Linked DNA regions of Homo sapiens: all the other regions are linked to region 4. Evidence: fine-mapped expression QTL. A gene starts in region 4. Each other region holds a variant in brackets. All regions are shown on one strand. Distances are from middle to middle.

Region 1 (5,000 bases), 400 kb after region 4:
AAGCTCATTCTTTGGTCATAACTTGAAATCAGTTCACAACTTCTCAAGTTTGATACCCAGGGGAGACACAGGCCCTAGCACAATTCTGACTGAGGTGCAGAAACTGGGAGAGCTCTTTCCAGGAAGCTTCCCTTTGTGTTCTGTCTGTGTCCACGGCACTAACAAGTGATCTTGTTTTCCCCCTCTCGCCAGGAATCTTACATCCTTTCTGCAGAACTTGGAGAAAAGTGTGAAGACATAGGCAAGAAGCTATTGTACTTGGAAGATCAACTTCACACAGCAATCCACAGTCATGATGAAGATCTCATTCATATCCTTTTCATCTTGCAGATGAAGCAAGGCAAAGTTATTTTATAAAAGAGAGTCTTTAAAGGGTAGTTTTTCATGCCTCAGAAGATGGCAACAAATAGATGCTGCCGTTATTTATAGCACAGAGCACCTCAGATCTCTGAGATTATCAGGTATGAAATGTTTTCGCTCTAGTTTTCAGTAAGCAATTCAGTATTTTTTTTCTTTTTTCTTTTTTTTTTTTTTTTTTTTTTGATGCCTTGGCTGGAGTGCAATGGTGTGATCTCAGCTCACTGCAGCCTCCACCTCCTGGGTTCAAACGGTTCTCCTGCCTCAGCCTCCTGAGTAGCTGGGATTACAGGTGCCCGCCAGCACGCCCAGCTAATTTTTTTGTATTTTTAGTAGAGAGAGGGTTTTGCCATGTTTGCCAGGCTGGTCTAGAACTCCTGACCTCAAGTGATCCGCCCGCCTTGGCCTCCCAAAGTGCTGGGATTACAGGCTTGGGCCACCGCATCCGGCCGCAATTCAGTATTTTTAATTGCTAAATCCAACCACTAACAATTAAGTTCAGACATGCACACGAGGAAGCCAAAGAAAATGCAGTTTCAAGTGAGTGTAAATCCAGCTCTGTGTGGCCCTGGTGAAGGAAAACAGTTGACTGGCTCGTTTTCCTACGAGCTTTTTCAATACCAAGCGTCCTAAATCCACCTCTGAATTTCTTTATCTAGCAACTCTACCTAGTAATGGGCAGTACAGTAACAAAGCAAACAGGACTTTAGATTATTTCCTTTCAACTTCTAACCATATACACATGGTTGAACTCAATTTAGTCCTTTCTGCTTCCCGGTGATAGAATTTCTTGCACCAGACTTAATATCCTTGGTGTCACACCTACAAACACCTTCATCAAAACTAGCTGCTAGTGAGCAAGATGGCCTGAGAACATACTGGCTTAGGTATGCATCCGTATGAAGCACTCCATTCTGTGTTGATCTGTGGACGCAGTTTGTCACTGGTTAGTTCTGCTGAGAGCAAATGGGTGGGTACCCAGTGGATGAAGGGATATGCAGCCCTATATCCTTTCAGTTATTTAATCACAAGTTGACACTTCTCTAGCTAAAAACACTTCCCTATTCATTCATCTTTCTATTCAGTAGAATGTCTTTTATTAGATGCGTTTGTGGCAAATTTAGCTATTTTGGTCTTTGCTTGTCATTGCTGTCTTACTTTTTAGAATTCCAGTTTTTACCATACTTTATGGGCTGTGTGTGTGTGTGTGTGTGTGTGTGTGTGTGTGTGTATAAGTAGCTTTGAATGGCCAAGGATTAATCTTAGTCATAAATACTCAGATCTGTGATTTAATGATAGAGCCAATGCTACACTTCCTTCCTTGTTATAACTTTACATTTTTGACCTTGTTTATTAAGCTGGGCAGAAAATTTCTTCAACTTAATCTGCAATGATTTTCACATTGCTTTAGGTAGATTTTGAAAAGCAGATATTCTGTTCTTCATAATTTCCTGCCTCTTAAAAATCTTGTATTTAAGCTATTATCAGAAAGTTTCCCAAAGAAGCATACAAACATAGAATAAGGATGGCGTTTTTATTTATTCCATGTTCATGGGATCACAAATCTTTGAGCACGTGTAAGGGGGTATGGCTTCCAGCAAATGGGCAGGTGATGGGGCACAGAGGAGGAGTCCGCTGCAGAGAGTCAATGGATATGAAGGGGTTCCCGTTCCCCAGCTCAGCAGATGGGCAGTTCCTAAGTGGGTTGTACCTCTGTCTTCAGGTAGCAGTTCTGAGGGCTGCAGTCAGGGTTCTGT[A/G]CTGGTCTCTTATTGTGAAATTTTCTAAAAGGTTAGTTTGATTCTGGGGAATTGGATCTTATTTTTACTAGAGCTGGGGAGGCAGCTCTAGTAAAGACCCCTGAAAAACAAGGGGTTAAGCAGTATTTAAACAAGATCCTTTTAGTTTTTCCACAGCTGATCCAAGCCAGATTTAATAGCAGCGGGATCATGGACAAGTGATAATGCCTCTTTAAGCATTAGGGTTCCCATCTGTAATGTCAGGATAACATACACCTCTAAGGTTTTTATGGGGGTTAAATAAGGCTATATTCATAATGTACATTTAATATAGCCATGGGTAAGTGCATGATTTTAGGTAGAAAAGTGTTATCCAAGTCCATTTGTCTCACAGTTCTTAGTATATTAGTCACAAGCTCCAAGAACATCCCATTTATACACAAAAAGTTTCAAGGTAGATTGATTCAACTATTTTGTAATAAATGCTTGAAGGAATCAATCAGTAACTCCACAGTGGCTTAGATGAAAAGTCATTTAATTATAATAAAACTTCTATAAATGGATAGGGATTATTATCCCTACTTGACAGTCGAAAAAAACAAGGCTTGGGAACAACTTGGCTGACACAAGGTCATTTCTGATGAGTAGCAGAACTTTTCAGCCACAAGCCCCATGGTCCTATTAGGCCCATCAGAAAGCAGCCATTGCCTATAAGTAAATGGACAGGTCTGTTCCATGGAACACACAATTACTTTAAATTTTTAAGCTATAATAAAAGTATTTCACTGATGTTATGTTTTTTGAGAATTTCACTGATCTCTGTTGTGATAAGCGGAGAAGCACTGGTTTAGGTACTGAAGTCAGCTCTCTCCCTCCCTCCAATAAAATCTACACCACGATATGGATTTCAACCCAGACTTTTCTTCGAATCCCAGTCTTCTGTCACTGATTGAGAATAAATACACAGAAGGTGTCTTTGAATTCATACAAAGCAGCACTTAAATTTGAGTGGAACATTATGCCCTAAGATAGAAAGACATGTTTACAAGGCTCTACGGAGGCTCCCCTACACAAACCAAAGCCGTTGTTTCAAATTAGAGCTTATCTAGAGATTCAGAGAGGCTGCCAGAATCCTCCAGCCAAACTCTGACTGGTTTGTATTTCCATGTTTGATCAAAGATACAATGCTGAGTGTGGCTGAAAGAAACAGCTTGTTGTCAACAATACAGAAGGATTGCACAGTGAGTGCAGTGTTTTGTTTGATTCCATTAAGCATGCTGCCAGAGCCTACTGTGCATGTGAGGTACCCAATTAATCTAAGTCCACATTGGAATGTGATTAATGTAAGCCCACATTGGACGTCCACGTCTGAAAGATTCAAGCCACAGATGCTACCATGGATGTTTATTCTTTGTGTGGAAAACACTCAGTTTTTGCATAAACCATGTGTGTACATAAGGGCTATTAGTGTGGCATCAACAGAGGTTAGGGGTGGGCAGTGGGACTGAGTTTCCAAATAGGTCCTTGTGGCCTCCTGATTTAATATCCGAGTTATGGGCAGCCTCATGGGTGTCTCCTACTTTTATTAAGAAGACACTGATTGACCAATCCAAGGAGGGAGAGGAAAGAGCCTTTGCCTCTTCATCGTCCTGACAGGCTCACCAAATTACATGTAGCATGACCAAAGAACAACACAAACCCATCAGCTACTGTGGCAGCGAGTGTCTGAAAACAGTCTGCACCATTAATTGGGAGAGCTGGTGGTGGAGAGGTGGCTCACGCCTAGTGCCTGAGAAGGGGACAGGAGGTGTGACTTCACGGCCAGTCAAGTCGGGACTTCCAGGAGCATTAGTGTGAGTCTCTAGTGCATTTTCACAGTCATCTGGGGTCCTAATTAGCAGTATGTTTTGAAAAACATTTTGACTGTGTGCAAGGTCTCCTCCACGCTCAAAATATTGTAACCAAAAGCCTTCCAAATTAAGGTGGATTTTTAAGCAGGAATTTTCTCATTTTCTTCCTCCTTCAATTTCTACAACACACTTTCAAAGGAAAAGAAGTACACCTGTGATATGTACATTTTTGGCATATTTCAAAGCCCTCAGGGCAGTTCTGCCTGGCCCTCAGTCATAGACGAGGTAGAGACACTCTGATTCTATTTGTGGTTGTATTTACATCCATGTCTGGGAAGCCCTTATGGAATTCTGTTTCTCTGGTTATTTGGAGTGCATGGTGCCCAATTGTTTAGTTTTGGTGGTGCTTGAGGGCATGCTCTAAATACATCCAGGTTTGTGCACAAATACCACAGCTCCGTAGGACCCTTGTTTAGTTCAACTTTCCAAATTTTAGCGTGAACAGACAAAGGTAACGAGAGTTTTGGGAGACTGTCCTGCCTCCTTGGAGATGTTTTCCACTTCTAGAGCTGAGGGGCTGGAAGAGGGATCATGAGGATCATGGAGCTCCACTCATGTAGTTTATAGATAAGAAAATCCAGAGCCTGGCCAGGTGCGGTGGCTTACATCTTAATCCCGGCACTTTGGGAGGCTGAGGTGGATGGATTGTTTGAGACCAGGAGTTTGAGACCAGCCTAGGCAACATGGCAAAACCCTGTCTCTATTAAAAATACAAAAATTAACTGGGCGTGATGGTGCACACCTGTAGTCCCAGCTACTCCAGAGGCGTGAGAATTGCTTGAACCCAGGAGGTGGAGGTCGCAGTGAGCTGAGACTGCACACTACTACACTCCAGCCTGGGCAACAAAGTAAGACACTGCCAAAGAAGGAGGGAGGGAAGGAAGGAAGGAAGGAGGGAGAGAGGAGAGAGAGAGAGAGAACAGGAAGGAAGGAAGGGAGAAAGGAGAGACAGAGAGAGAGGAAGGAAGGAAGGGAGAAAGAGAGAGAGAAAGAGAGG
Region 2 (5,000 bases), 33 kb after region 4:
CTTGCAGCATTTTTATAGTTTTGGGTTTTACACTTAAGTCTTTAATCCATCTTGAATTGATTTTTGCTTAAGGTGTAAGGGATGGGTCCAGTTTCAATTTTCTGCATATGGCTAGCCAGCTCTCTCAGCACCATTTATTAAATATGGAGTCCTTTCCCCATTGCTTGTTTTTGTCTAGTTTGTTGAAGATCAGATGGTTGTAGGTGTTGGGTCTTATTTCTGAGTTCTGTATTCTGTTCCATTGGTCTATGTGTCTGTTCCTGTACCAATACCCTGCTGTTTTGGTTACTGTAGCCTTGCAGTATAGTTTGAAGTTGGGTAGCCATGATGCCTCCAGCTTTGTTCTTTTTGATTATGATTGTCTTGGCCATTTGGGATTTGTTGGTTCCACATGAATTTTAAAATAGTTTTTTCTAATTCTGTGAAGAATGTCAATGGTAGTTTAATGGGAATAGCATTGAATCTATAAATTGCTTTGGGCAGTATGGCTATTTTCATGATATTGATTCTTCCTGTTCATGAGCATGGAATGTTTCTCCATTTGTTTGTGTCCTGTACGATTTCTTTGAGCAATGGTTTGTAGTTCTCCTTGAAGAGGTCCTTCACTTCCCTTGTTAGCTGTATTCCTAGTTATTTTATTCTTTTTGTAGTAATTGTGAATGGGAGTTCATTTATGATTTGGCTCTTTGATTGCCTGTTGTTGGTGTGTAGGAATGCTAGCAATTTTTGCACATTGATTTTGTATCCTGAGACTGCTGAAGTTGCTTATCAGCTTAAAAAGCTTTTGGGCTGAGATGATGGGGTTTTCTAGATATAGGATCATGTCATCTGCAAACAAAGATAATTTGACTTCCTCTCTTCCTATTTGAACACCCTTTATTTTGTTCTCTTATCTGATTGCCCTGGCCAGAACTTCCAATACTATGTTGAATAGGAGTGGCGAGAGAGGACATCTTGTTTTGGGCTGTTTTTCAAGGGGAATGCTTCCAGCTTTTGCCCAGTCAGTATGATATTGGCTGTGGGTTTGTCATATATGGCTCTTATTATTTTGAGGTATGTTCCTTCAATACCTAGTTTATTGAGAATTTTTAACATGAAGGGATGCCAGATTTTATCGAAGGCCTTTTCTGCATATATTGAGATAATCATGTGGTTTTTGTCTTTAGTTCTGTTTATGTGATGAATCACATTTATTGATTTGCATATGTTGAACCAACTTTGTATCCTGGAGATGAAGCCAACTTGATTCTAGTGGATAAGCTTTTTGATGTGCTGCTGCATTCAGTTTGTCAGTATTTTATTGAAGGTTTTTGCATTGATGTTCATTAAGGATATCGGCCTGAGGTTTTCTTTTTTTTTGTTGTATCTCTGCCAGGTTTTGGTATCAGGATGATGCTGGCCTCATAGAATAAATTGGGGATGAGTCCCTCCTTTTCAATTTTTTGGAATAATTTCAGTCAAAATGATACCCCTTTTTCTTTGTACCTCTGGTAGAATTCAGCTGTGAATCTGTCTGTTCCTGGGCTTTTTTTGGTTGGTAAGCTATTTATTACTGTCTCAATTTCAGAACTCATTATTGGTCTATTCAGAGATTCAATTTCTTCCTGGTTCAGTCTTGGGAGGGTGTATGTGTCTAGGAATTTATCCATTTCTTCTAGATTTTTTAGTCTATGTGCATAGAGGTGTTTACAGTATTTTCTGATGGTTGTTTGTATTTCTGTGGGGTTAGTGGTGATATCTCCCTTAACATTTTCTATTGTATCTATTTGATTCTTCTCTCTTTTCCTCTTTGTTAGTCTAGCAAGTGATCTATTTTATTATTTTTTTCAAAAAACCAGTTTCTGGATTTGTTGATTTTTTTGAAGGGTTTTTTGTGTCTCTGTCTTCTTCACTTATTATGCCCTCATCCTGGTTATTTCTTGTCTTCTAGCTTTGGAGTTTGTTTGCTCTTGGTTCTCTAGTTCTTTAGTTGAGATGTTAGGTTGTTAACTTGAGATCTTTCTAGCTTTTGATGTGGGCATTTAATGCTCTAAATTTCCCTCTTAACACCACTTTACCTGTGTCCCAGAGATTCTAGGACATTGTCTCTTTGTTCTCATTAGTTTCAAAGTACTTATTGATTTCTGCCTTAATTTCATTATTTACCCAAGAGTCATTCAGGAGCAGGTTGTTCAGTTTCCATGTAGTTGTGTGGTTTTGAGTGAATTTCTTAATCTTGAGTTCTAATTTGATGGTGCTGTGGTCTGAGAGACTGTTATGATTTCAGCTCTTTTGCATTTGCTGAGGAGTGTTTTATTTCCAATTATGTGATCAGTTTTAGAGTAAGTGCCATATGTCAATGAGGAGAATGTATATTCTGCTGTTTTGTGGTGGAGAATTCTGTAGATATCTATCAGATCCACTTGATCCAGGGCTGAGTTCAGGTCCTTACTATCTTTATTAATTTTCTGTCTTGATTTGTCTAATATTGTCAGTGGGTTGTTAAAGTCTCCCACTATTATTGTGTGGGAGTCTAAGTAGTCTAAGTGTGTCATTCTTGAAGAACTTGCTTTATGAATCTGGGTGCTCCTATATTGGATGCATATATATTTAGGATAGTTAGCTCTTGTTGAATTGAACTCTTTACCATTATTAATGCCCTTCTTTATATTTTTTGATCTTTGTTGGCTTAAAGTCTTGTTTTGTCAGAAATTAGGATTGCAACCCCTACTTTTTTCTGTTTTCCATTTGCTTGGTAAATTTTCCTTCATCCTTTTATTTTGAACCTGTGTATGTCTTGCATGTGAGATGGGTCTCTTGAAGACAGCACACCAGTGGGTCTTGGCTCTGT[C/G]CAGCTTGCCATTCTGTGTCTTTTAATTGGGGCATTTAGCCCAAAAAAAAAATATATATATTTTATATTTTTTGAGATGGAATTTCACTCTGTGTCACCCAGGCTGGAGTGCAATGGTGCAGTCCCAGCTCACGGCAACCTCTGCCTCCCGGGTGAAGCGATTCTCCTGCCTCAGCCTCCCGAGTAGCTGGGATTACAGGCACCTGCCATCTTTTAGTAGAGATGGGGTTTCACCATGTTGGCCAGGCTGGTCTCGAACTCTTGACCTCAGGTGATTTGCCTGCCTCAGGCTTCCAAAGTGCTGGGATTACAGGTGTGAGCCACTGTGCCTGGCCTAGCCCATTTATATTTAAGGTTAGTATTATTATATGTGAATTTGATCCTGTCATCATGATGCTAGCTGGTTATTTTGCAGACTTGTTTATGTAGTTGCTTCATAGTGTCACTGGTCTGTGTAGTTCAGTGTGTTTTTGTAGTGGCTGGTAACAGTTTTTCGTTTCCATATTTAGTGCTTCCTGGTGGTGATGAATTCTCTCAGCCTTTGCTTGTCTGAAAAGGATCTTATTTCTCCTTCATTTATGAACCTTAGTTTGGTCAGATATGAAATCTTGGGTTGGAAATTCTTTTCTTTAAGACTGTAGAATATTGGCCCACAATCTCTTCTGGCTTGTAGGGTTTCCATTGAGAGGTCCTCAGTTAGTCTGATTGGCTTCCCGTTGTAGGTGACCTGGCCTTTCTTTCTGGCTGCCCTTCACTTTTTTTTTTTCATTTCGACCTGGAGAATCTGATGATTATGTGTCTGGGGGTTGATCTTCTCATGGAGGATCCTACTGGGGTTCTCTGCACTTCCTGAATTGAATATTGGCCTATCTTGCCAGGTTGGGTGAGTTCTCTTGAATGATATCCTGAAGTGTGATTTCCAACTTGGTTCCATTCTCCCTGTCCCTTTCAGGTATCCCAATCAGTTGGAGGTTTGGTCTCTTCATAGAATCCCATATTTCTTGGAGGTTTTGTTCATTCCTTTTCATTCTTTTTTCTCTATTCTTGTCTGCCTGTCTTATTTCAGAAAGATAGTCTTTAAGCTCTGAAATTCTTTCCTCCACTTGGTCTATTCTGCTATTGATACTTGTGATTGCATTGTGAGGTTCTCGTGTTGTGTGTTTTCAGCTCCATGAGCTTGGTTATGTTCCTCTCTAAACTGGCTATTCTGGCTATCAGCTTCTGTATTGTTTTATCATGATTCTTAGCTTCTTTGCATTGGGTTACAACATGCTCCTTTTACTCAGTGAAGTTTGTTATTACCCACCTTCTGAAGTCTACTTCTGTCAGTTCAGTCATCTCAGCCTCAGCCCAGTTCTGTTCCCTTGCTGGAGAGGTGTTACTGTCATTTGGAGGAGAAGAGCCACTCTGGCTTTTTGAGTTTTCAGCACTGATTCTTTGCTTATCTTTGTGGGCTTATCTACCTTCAATCTTTGAGGTTGCTGGCCTTTCAATAGGGTTTTGTGGGATTCTTTTTGTTGATCTTTTTGTTGTTGTTGTTTTCTGTTTGTTTTTCTTTTCATAGTCAGGCCACTCTACCGTAGGGCTGCTGCAGTTTGCTGGGGGTCTGCTCCAGACCTTGGTTGCCTTGGTTTTTCCTGTACCTGGAGATATCACCAGTGAAGGCTGCAAAACAGCAAAGATGGCTGCCAGCTCCTTCCTGTGGAAGCTCTGTGCCAGGGGGATACTGACCTGTTGCTGGCCAGAACATATCTGTAAGAGGTGGCTGGAGACCCCTGTTTGGAGGTCTCACCCAGTCAGGTGGAATGGTATCAGGGACCCATTTAAAGATGAGTCTTGCTGCTTTTTGTCTGAGGAGGTGTGCTGCATTGTGGCAGACCCTTCCTCATCTGGACTGTTTGCATTCTCCAAAGCCAGCAGGCTGGAATGGTTGAGTCCACTGAACCACAGAGATGGCAGCCACCTCTCCCCCTGGGAGCTGCATCCGAGGGAGAGGTCAGAGTTCTGTTAATAGAACCCTTGTTGGCGTGGCTGAAGCCCCCACAGGGAGGTCCCTCCCAGTAAGGAGGAATGAATCGGGGTCCCACTTAACGAAGCAATCTGGCCACAGTGTGGCAAAGCAGCTGTGCTGCATTGTGGGGGGCCCTTCCTCATCTGGACCATTTGTATT
Region 3 (5,000 bases), 210 kb after region 4:
CTTTTGAGCCAGGATGAGCCAGGAGAAGGAATTTCACCAGATAATGTCATCTGTTAAGGCAGGAACAGGCCATTTTCACTTCTTTTGTGGTGGAATGTCATCAGTTAAGGCAGGAACTGGCCATCTGGATGTGTACGTGCAGGTCACAGGGGATATGATAGTTTAGCTTGGGCTCAGAGGCCTGACATTCCTGTCTTCTTATATTAATAAGAAAAATAAAATGAAATGGTGGTAAAGTGTTGGGATGGTGAAAAGTTTTGGAGGTGGTATGGAGAGATAATGGGCGATGTTTCTCAGGGCTGCTTCGAGCGGGATTAGGGCGGCATGGGAACCTAGAGTGGGAGATATTAAGCTGAAGGAAGATTTTGTGGTAAAGGGTGATATTGTGCGGTTGTTAGAAGAAACATTTGTCATTTAGAATTATTGGTGATGGCCTGGATATGGTTTTGTATGAATTGAAAAACTAAATGGAATAAGAGAAGGAGAAAAACAGGTATTAAAGGTCTAAGAATTGGGAGGACCTAGGACATCTAATTAGAGAGTGCCTAAGGAGATTCAGCATAGTCCTGCCAGCAAAGATTATTTATTTACTTCAAAAGTTAAGAGCGGCAGTTTGGGGATAGCACCAGGAGATATCAGCTGTGATGGCTTGGAAAAACAGTGTAAACCGGCAGCGTAAACAAGAGCAGGGCATGTATGAGTAGTTGAGAATGGTGAATAGGAGTATAACTAGACAGAAGATAGTAGGGATGACAAGTTTTTTGGGGCACAGTCCAAGTTGGTCTGGTGTCTGGAATGAGACTGGGGCCTAATAAAAAGGAGCGTCCATACAGGAGCTCAAATGGGCTGTACCCTGTAGCATTCCGAGGACAGGCCTGAATTCTGAGAAGGGAAAGTGGTAAAAGTATTGTCCAGTCCTTTTTAAGTTGGTGGCTGAGCTTGGTGAGGTGTGTTTTTAAAAGACCATTAGTCTGTTCTACCTTTCCTGAAGACGGAGGACCGTAAGGGATATAAAGGTTTCACTGAATACTAAGAGCCTGAAAAACTGCTTGGCTGATTTGACTAATAAAGGCTCGTCTGTTATCAGACTGTATTGAGGTGGGAAGGCTAAACTGAGGAATTATGTCTGACAGAAGGGAAGAAATGACTGCAGTGGCCTTCTCGGACCCTGTAGGAAAGGCCTCTACCCATCCAGTGAAATGGCTACCCAGGCTAAGAGGTATTTTAATTTTCTGACTTGGGGCATGTGAGTAAAGTCAATTTGCCAGTCCTGGGCAGGGGCAAATCCCCGGGCTTGATGTGTAGGGAAGGGAGGAGGCCTGAACAATCCCCAAGGGGTAGTAGAATAGCAGATGGAACACTGAGAAGTGATTTCCTGGAGGATAGATTTCCAGGATGGAAAGGAAATGAGAGATTCTAAGAGACAGGGTAGCAGCTTGTAACCTATGTGGAAGAGGTTATGAAATGACAACAGAATAGAATGGGACTGTGAGGCTGCAAGGAGATATTTTCCTTGGTCTAAGAACCATTTGCCTTGTGTGGGAAGAGACTGATAGGTGGAAGTTTCAGCAGGGGAGTAGGTGGGAATGACTGATGTGAAGGAGAAAAACTGGCCGTGAGGGACAGAAGTTGGAGAGCTAGCTGCTTGTCTAGCCACCTTATCAGCATAAGCGTTGCCTAGAGCAATGGGATCTGACGCCTTTTGATGGCCTTTGCAGTGAATGACTCCAGCTTCCTTTGGAAGTAAAGCCGCCTTGAGCAGAGTTTTTATTAGAGGCATTAATGATGGAGGACCCTTGCGTAGTGAGGAAACCTCTTTCAGCCCATGTGACCACATGGTGGTGTATGATATGGAAGGCATATTTAGAGTCAGTATAAATATTGACGTGTCGTCCTTTTGCAAGAGTGAGGGCTTGAGTTAAGGCAACTAGTTCGGCTTTCTGAGAGGTAGTGGGGGGGGGTGGGCAGAGTGGTAGCCTTGATGATAGATGTGGAAGCTACTATAGCATAGCCTGCCTTTGCTGGTGAGTGGCGATTAGGCCTGGTGGAACTGCCATCAATAAACCAAATGTGATCAGGGTGAGGAACAGGAAAGAAGGAAATATGGGGAAATGGGGTGAATGTTAGGTGGATCAGAGAGATACAGTCATGAGGGTCAGGTGTGGTATCCAGAATAATGTGGGAGGCTGGATTGAAGTCCATGCCAGGAACAGTGGTAATTGTGGGACACTCAACAAAGAGTGAGCACAGCTGAAGGAGCCAGGGAGCAGAAAGTATATGCCTCAGGTGTGAGGAAGAAAATAGATTTTGGAAGTTATGAGAACTGTAGAGAGTGAGTTGAGCATAGTTTGTGATTTTGAGGGCCTCTAAAAGTATTAAAGCAGCGGCAGCCGCTGCACGCAGACATGAGGGCTAGGCTAAAACAGTAAGGTCAAGTTGTTTGGACAGAAAGGCTACAGGGTG[C/T]GGTCCTGGCTCTTGTGTAAGAATTCTGACCTCACTAACCATGCCTAGGAAGGAAAGGAGTTGTTGTTTTGTAAGGGATTGAGGTTTGGGAGATTAGTCAGACATGATCAGCAGGGAGAGCATGTGTGTTTTTATGAGAATTATGCCGAGATAGGTAACAGATGAGGATGAAATTTGGACTTGACTGAAGTAATGGGGGCTGTCTGTGAAGCCCTGTGGCAGTACAGCCCAGGTAATTTGCTGAGCCTAATGGGTGTCAGGGTCAGTCTAAGTGAAAGCGAAGAGAGGCTGGGATGAAGGGTGCAAAGGGATAGTAAAGAAAGCATGTTTGAGATCCAGAACAGAATAATGGGCTGTGGAGGGAGGTATTGAGGATAGGAGAGTATATGGGTTTGGCACCACAGGGTGGATAGGCAAAACAATTTCATTGATAAGGCGCAGATCCTGAACTAACCTGTAAGGCTTGTCTGGTTCTAGGACAGGTAAAATGGGGGAATTATAAGGAGAGTTTATAGGCTTTAAAAGGCCATGCTGTAACAGGTGAGTGATAACAGGCTTTAATCATTTTAAAGAGTGCTGTGGGATGGGATATTGGCATTGAGCAGGCTAAGGGTGATTAGGTTTTAATGAGATGGTAAGGGGTGCATGATCGGTCACCAAGGAGGGAGTAGAGGTATCTTATACTTGTGGGTTAAGGTGGGGGGATACAAGAGGAGGACGCAAAGGAGGCTTTGGATTGGGAAGAAGGGCGGCAATGAGATTCAGCTGTAGTCCAGGAATAGTCAGGGAAGCAGATAATTTAGTTAAAGTGTCTCAGCCTAATAAGGGAACTGGACAGGTGGGGACAATTAAAAAGGAGTGCTTAAAAGAGTATTGTCAAAGTTGGCACCAGAGTTGGGGAGTTTTAAGAGGTTTAGAAGCCTGGCCGTCAATATCTACAACAGTTATGGAGGCAAGGGAAACAGGCCCTTGAAAAGAAGGTAATGTGGAGTGGGTAGCCTCCATATTGATTAAGAAGGGGAAGGACTTACCCTCCACTGTGAGAGTTACCCAAATCTCGGCATCCATGATGGTCTAGGGGGCTTCCAAGGCGATTTGGCAGTGTCAGTCTTCAGCTGCTAAGCTGAGAAGATCTGGGAAGGAGTCAGTCAGAGAGCCTTGGGCCAGAGTTCCAGGGGCTCTGGGAGTGGCTGCCAGGTGAGTTGAACAGTCCGATTTTCAGTGGAGTCCCGCACAGATGAGACGCGGCTTAGGAGGAATCCTGGGCTGCGGGCATTCCTTGGCCTGGTGGCCAGATTTCTGGCACTTGTAGCAAGCTCCTGGGGGAGGCAGGCCTGGAGGAACTCCTGGTCACTGCGGTTTAGGCATTTGGAAGTTCTTGTGTGCTGGAGATGTGGCTGGGGTTTGTCTCACAGTGGAGGCAAGGAATTGCAACTCAGAAATATGTTGCTACTTGGCTGCCTCTACTCTATTATTGTACACCTTGAAGGCACGGTTAATGAAGTCCTGTTGTGGGGTTTGAGGGCTGGAATTTAATTTTTGGAGTTTTATTTAATGTCCAGAGCAGATTGGGTAATAAAATGTATTTTGAGAATAAGACGGCCTTTTGACCTTTTAGGGTCCAGGGCTGTAAAGTGTCTCAGGGTTGCTGCCAAACGAGCCATGAACTGGGCTGGGTTTTTATAGTTGCTGAAAAAGAGCCTAAACACTATCTGATTTGGGATAAAGAAAAAGGAGCATTAACCTTGACTATGCCTTTAGCTCCAGCCACCTTTTTAAGAGGAAATTGCTGGGCAGGTGGGGGAGGGCTAGTCATGGAACGAAACTGTAAGCCAGACCGGGTGTAAGGAGGAGAGGTGATAAAAGGATTATAGGGTGGAGGAGTGGAGGCCGAGGAAGAATTTGGACCTAGCTTGGCCTGGTGAGGAGGGGAGAGGTCAGATGGGTCTGTAGAAAAGGAAGATTAGAAAGACTTAGCGACGCTTGGGGTTGGGACTGAGGGGACAGGCAGGAGGGAAAGAAGGAAGATTTGGGATGAGTTGTACTGGGAACAGAGACTAGGGAGGGACCGATGTGTAAAAGAATGTCTGGACGTCAGGCATCTCAGACCGTTTGCCCATTTTATGACAAGAATTATTTAGATCTTGTAGGATGGAAAAATTGAACGTGCCGTTTTCTGGCTATTTGGAACCACTGTCGAGTTTGCATTGGGGTCAAGCGGCATCGCAGAAGAAAATAAGGCATTTAGGTTTTAGGTCAGGTGTAAGTTGAATAGGTTTTAGGTTTTTAAGAACACAGGCTAAGGGAGAAGAAGGGGGCAATGGGGGGCAGAAGCTTGCCCATAGTGAAGGAGGCAAGCCCAGAGAAAAGAGAGAGTAGAGACACGGAGAGAAGGGATGGGGGGTTCTTGCCCCCTAGAAAAGCTGTACTTGCCACTAACGGTGAAGGACCAAGGCAGGCGTCCCTGCATGGTCAGACACCTCTGAAACGTGGGTGAATAATCATGCAGACATCCCCGTGTGATTAAACACCAAGCG
Region 4 (5,000 bases):
GAGCTAGAGTGATCCTCCTGCTTCAGCCTCCCAAGTAGCTGGGACTACAGGTACAGGCCACTGTGCTGGCTAATTAATTTTTTTTTTCTTTATAGAAAGGGTTTTGACAAGCAATGGGTAAAGAATTTCCTAAATGGTGATGGGATAACTGGCTAGTCATATGCAGAAGATTGAAACTGGACCTCTACCTTACAGTTTATACAAAGTTAACTAAAGATGTATTAAAGACTTAATTGTAAAACCCAAAACTATAAAATCCCTGCAAGACAACCTAGGCAATACCATTCAGGACATAGGCATGGGCAAAGATTTCACGACAAAGATGCCAAAAGCAAAAATTGACAACTGGGATCTAATTAAACTAAAGAGCTTCTGAACAGCAAAAGAAACTATCAACAGAGTAAACAGACAACCTACAGAATGGGAAAACAATTTTGCAAACTGTGATCTAACAAAGATCTAATATCCAGCATCTTATAAGGAACTTATATTTACAAGAAAAAACCAAACAACCCCATTAAAAAGTGAGCAAGGGACATGAACAGACACTTTTCAAAAGAAGACATATATGTGGACAACATTCATATAAAAAAAGCTCAACATCACTGATTATCAGATAAATGCAAATCAAAACCACAATGAAATACCACCTAACACCGGTCAGAATGGGTATTACTAAAAAGTCAAAAAATAACAGATGCTGGAGAAGTTGTGGAGAAAAAGGAACACTTTTACACTGTTGGTGGGAGTGTAAATTAGTTCAGCTATTGTGGAAGACAGTGTGGTGATTCCTCAAAGACCCAAAGACAGAAATATTGTTTGACCCAACAATCGTATGACTGGGTATACACCCAAAGGAATATAAATAATTCTATTATAAAGACACATGCACACACATGTTCACTGCAGCACTATTCACAACGGCAAATATATGGAATCAATCTAAATGCCCATCAATGATAGGCTGGATAAAAAAATATGGTACATATATACCATAGAATACTATGCAGCCATAAAAAAGAATGAGATCATGTCTTTTGCAGGGACATGGATGGAGCTGGAGGCCATTATTCTTAGCAAACTAACACAAGAACAGAAAACCAAACACTGCATGTTCTCACTTATAAGTGGGAGATAAATGATGAGAACACATGGACGCATAGAGGGGAACAGCACACACTGGTGCCTTTTGGAGGGCGGAGGGTAGGAGAAGGGCGAGGATCAAGAAAAACAACTAATGAGCACTAGGCTTAATACCTGGGTGACAAAATACTCTGTACAACAAACACCCATGACACAAGTTTACCTATGTAACAAACTGAACTTAAAAGTTAAAAAAAAAAAAGAGGTTCTTATTATGTTGCCCAGGCTGATCTCAAACTTCTGGACTCAAGTGAACTTCCACCTTGGCCTCCCAAAGTGCCTGGCCTTAGATATTCATACATTTATTTATTTTTAGAGATGTGGTGGGGGTGTGGGGGGTCTCTCTCTGTCACCTGGGCTGGAGTGCAGTGGCCCCATCATAGCTCACTGAAGCCTTGAACTCCTGGACTCAAGCAATCCTCCCACCTAAGCCTGCCGAGTAGCTGGGACTACAGGAGTGCACTACCATGCCGGGCAAACACACTGATTTTAAGTACAACTGTGTGCTTTCAGTCTTAAGATCTTCAGCTTTTGAAGGACCTCAGCCTTCCTCTAGTTCTAACTCCTCTCGTTCTAAGGAGATCCTTCCCATTCCTGCAGAACGTCTCCCCAACCCTTCTTCTTCACAGTTCTCCCTCCTATCCCTGAACCATTGCAAGAGGTTTTGTGCCAAGCCTCTGGCACATGGCACATTCTATCTCATGTTGTGATTTCGTTTTCTATGCACGTGCTCTCCTTCTAGCCTGGAGGTGAGCTGCTTAAGGGCAAAGAGCTCATGTGTAGCCCTTCCTTGTACCCATTGTCCTATAGCAGGTGCTACCTAGGGGGTGCTCCAGTAGCTTCCTTGAATGAACCAAAGAGAAGGGGTGAAGGGGGGAGTCAGTTGCCTAGGAGCTTGCATGGACTTCTGTGTCCTGGAACCAGCCCGGAGCTGCTGGAAGATGCTAGAAGTTGGAATCCTATCTCATTTCTAAACATCTGCTCCCACTCATCTCTTTCCAGGGTCATCAGTTATCCCCACTCCTCCCCCCCGCCCCCACTTTGTATAAATGAGCCCCTCACATCCCTCCATCTTCTCCATCACTGTGTGGTCACTTCTTAAATCATGCGTCTGGAAGGCGCCCTCCTGTACCCCATCCTGGAGGCTTCCTGCACTTCCCCTCTTGTTTCTTCCAGAAATGAGTCAGAGTGAAAGCAAACTTTCTGAGGTCCTGAGATCCCGGAGACAGGCTGTGAGGGCCGCTGGCCCCGCCCGCTCCAGCAGCGTGTGTGTGTATGTCTGTGTGTGTGTGTGTGCGCGCGCGCGCGCGCGTCAGGGGCCAATGCTGGAAAGGAAACAGCGGACTCGCTGAGGAGAAGAAAGGAGCCGCCCCCTTCGTCGCCAGCCCCCTCCCCACTTCCCGTCCAGCGCGCTGCTCCCTTCCCCCCGCCTCTGGCCTCGGGGAAGGAGCAGGAGGCAGCCCAGGCGGAGCGGGAGGAGCTGGCAGCGGGGCGCATGCCAGGCGGGGGTCCTCAGGGCGCCCCAGCCGCCGCCGGCGGCGGCGGCGTGAGCCACCGCGCAGGTAGGGGAGCTGCCACAGAGTCCTAGCACGTCCTGGGGGGGTCCTGGCAAGGAGGGCGCGCTCTGGCCCCCAGGAAGTCGCGTAGGTCAGGGCGTGCCTCTGTTAACAACCCCTTTCGAGGTGAGGGAAACTGAGGCAGGACGCGAGGCGTGCGAGGTTGAGAGAAGAGCGAGTCTTGGGCTGCCAGCCCGGCACCAGCGCCGAGCCGGGCCAGGTCCCTGACCCAGGACTGTGCAGCGATCCCCGGGACCCGCAGTTTGCGAAACTGTAGGAGTCTGACCCGCGCCCCCGCTGCGTGTCCAGGTGACCGGGAAAGGTTGCAGAGGCGTGCTTGGGGTTTGGATCCGTCCCCGTCCTGGGACACCTGCGCCGCCTGCACTCTCGTTGCGGTGCGCCCCAGCCTGCGCCCCCTCGGGACAGGGGACGTCCCGCCCGCCTTAACCCCAAGACCCAGCTGGATCTCGGGTTCCACCCCTTCGGGGACCTGGAGGGAGGAGGCTGGGAGCGGGACCAGGAACTGGTGCCTGTGCCTTCCCTAGGGGCTGCTCTGAAATCAGTGTCACCGCCCACTTCCTACTTGGCTACAGTAACGGGGATGGCCCAAGCCGGAGACTGCTCGGTTTCCACCGCCTGGAGCGCGGGTCTCGCTGTCAACTCTTAGTGATGATTGTGGATGGTTGTTTTTCAACAATGACAGGACTTCTACCTTCTCACTCTTAAAATGTGAGGTTTTCCAAAGACAGTGAGATTTGGAGTTAGGGAGTGCTGCCTTGTGTTCTTGCTGGGTGAGGACAGGGCTGGGTCAGTCGCTTAACCTCTCAGAGCCTCAGTCTCCTGAAATGTAAAGGAGAACACTCATAGCCTGGCCTCCATGTGTCGTTAGGTTTGTTGTATGGGAAATCAATTTGCAAAGTGTTATCATCAACTGGACAAATTTGAATTGGACAGCACTAGGACCATAGGAACTGGGGTTTGGAGACAGTCTGCCTGCATGTCAATCCTGGACATGCAGGAGACTATGACAGTACCTGCTTCATAGGGTTGTTATGCGGTTTAACTGTGATGGTGGAAGTGAAGCACCTCGCCCAATGCCTGAAATACCCAGTGCACTCTCAAAAAACCTTAGTTGCTATTTTTCCTAGGCAAAATCTAAATAATTGGGAGTAATGTGAGAATACCAGTTTGATTTGATTAATGCAGGAATAGTAGGGCATTTAAAAACACATGTAGTTCTCCTGTGCTCGGCATGGTACATGAAGTCCTCTGAGGTTCAGTTCTGTGCCACAGAGCAAAAAGAACCGTGGACAAGATACCCGCTTTTCGGGCTCTTTGACTTTGAGCCTGTTTTCTCATCTGTTTACAAAAAAGATAAAAGAAAAATGGGGGTAGTAATTACTGCCTTTTGTACTGATCGCATTGCCTGAGGATTAAATGAGGCAAAAGATCTGAAAGCACCTTGTGGAGTATGAGTCACTATGCACATATAAGACATGATAGTACTAGGAGGGAATGGTAACATCTGCAGGTTTTTAGAACTTACAATGTGCCAGACATTTTATTATGAATTCCTTTGATGAAATCCTCCCTGCATCTTTATGGGACTGGGATTACAGTCCTCATTTCCCTATGACAAAGCTGAGGTTCAGGGTCACCCTGCTTGGTTCCCAAGCTCACAGAGCTCTTAAGTGTAAAGCCAGGATTAGAACCCTGGTGTGGGTGCCACTCACAACTGTGTTCTTGGCCGCTTGCCAAACTGAACTTATAGAGTGGAGCTGTGATTCAGAACAGACCTATATTAGAATTTAGGTAATTTTTTTTTCTTTAGGAGACAGAGTCTTGCTCTGTCACCCAGGATGGAGTGCAGTGGCACAATCATGGCTCACTGTAGCCTTGAACTCCTGGGCTCAAGAGATCCTCCTGTTCCAGCTTTTTGAGTAGTTGGGATTACAGGCGCATGCCACCATGCCCAGCTAATTTTTTTTTTTAGAGTTGGAGTCTTGCTATGTTGCTCAGGCTGGTCTCGACCTCCTGGCTTCAATCATTCCTCCCACTTTGGCCTCCCAAAGCGCTAGGATTACAGGCATGAGCCACCAGGCCCAACCTCCATCCTGCATATCTATAGACCCAAAATGTAAGAGTGAACTGTTAATCCTGGCAAAAGAGGCTTTGGCATAATTTTAATTTCCCTCAGACTTATTTTATAAAATATACTTTAAACTATCTTCTTGTAAAACAAATGATGACAATTTGCAGAAAAGTTATTAAAACATTGAAAGAACAGGTTGCAAGATCTCA

Alleles and levels. Alleles are on the strand shown, and positions count from the first base shown. SD is a standard deviation of normalised expression in the study named. Not every link is listed here.
For the expression in esophagus muscle of the gene that starts at base 2,561 in region 4, T is the low allele of the variant in region 3 and C is the other (small effect, 0.26 SD a copy in GTEx).

Evidence for each region. PIP is the estimated chance that this variant, and not a neighbour inherited with it, causes the effect. A credible set is the group of variants that fine-mapping cannot tell apart.
Region 1: its variant is the best candidate, but not a certain one, in a credible set for the expression of DISC1 in whole blood (INTERVAL, PIP 0.82).
Region 2: its variant is the best candidate, but not a certain one, in a credible set for the expression of DISC1 in whole blood (INTERVAL, PIP 0.50).
Region 3: its variant is the best candidate, but not a certain one, in a credible set for the expression of DISC1 in esophagus muscle (GTEx, PIP 0.55).

The regions. Positions count from the first base shown.
Region 1 is chr1:232,026,243-232,031,242 of GRCh38, forward strand. DISC1 (DISC1 scaffold protein) reads left to right here. Exons shown (of 13, transcript NM_018662.3): 12 at 193-310. It overlaps TSNAX-DISC1 (TSNAX-DISC1 readthrough (NMD candidate)), which reads left to right. Exons shown (of 16, transcript NR_028393.1): 15 at 193-310. It overlaps LOC124904549 (a long non-coding RNA gene), which reads left to right and starts at 324. Exons shown (of 2, transcript XR_007066941.1): 1 at 324-5,000. The variant A/G (reference allele first, on the strand shown) is at 2,115.
Region 2 is chr1:231,657,590-231,662,589 of GRCh38, forward strand. All of the region lies in intron 1 of DISC1 (DISC1 scaffold protein), which reads left to right. The region is part of intron 5 of TSNAX-DISC1 (TSNAX-DISC1 readthrough (NMD candidate)); the gene reads left to right. Among named protein-coding and RNA genes, the nearest start is that of DISC1, 33 kb to the left of the region's middle. The variant C/G (reference allele first, on the strand shown) is at 2,831.
Region 3 is chr1:231,829,898-231,834,897 of GRCh38, forward strand. The region is part of intron 9 of DISC1 (DISC1 scaffold protein); the gene reads left to right. All of the region lies in intron 12 of TSNAX-DISC1 (TSNAX-DISC1 readthrough (NMD candidate)), which reads left to right. The region is part of intron 1 of LOC105373170 (a long non-coding RNA gene); the gene reads right to left. Among named protein-coding and RNA genes, the nearest start is that of DISC2, 14 kb to the left of the region's middle. RefSeq lists an enhancer at 1,462-1,972. The variant C/T (reference allele first, on the strand shown) is at 2,464.
Region 4 is chr1:231,624,230-231,629,229 of GRCh38, forward strand. It overlaps DISC1 (DISC1 scaffold protein), which reads left to right and starts at 2,561. Exons shown (of 13, transcript NM_018662.3): 1 at 2,561-2,705. The coding sequence starts at 2,639. All of the region lies in intron 5 of TSNAX-DISC1 (TSNAX-DISC1 readthrough (NMD candidate)), which reads left to right. RefSeq lists silencers at 2,457-2,716, 3,047-3,106, 4,080-4,280.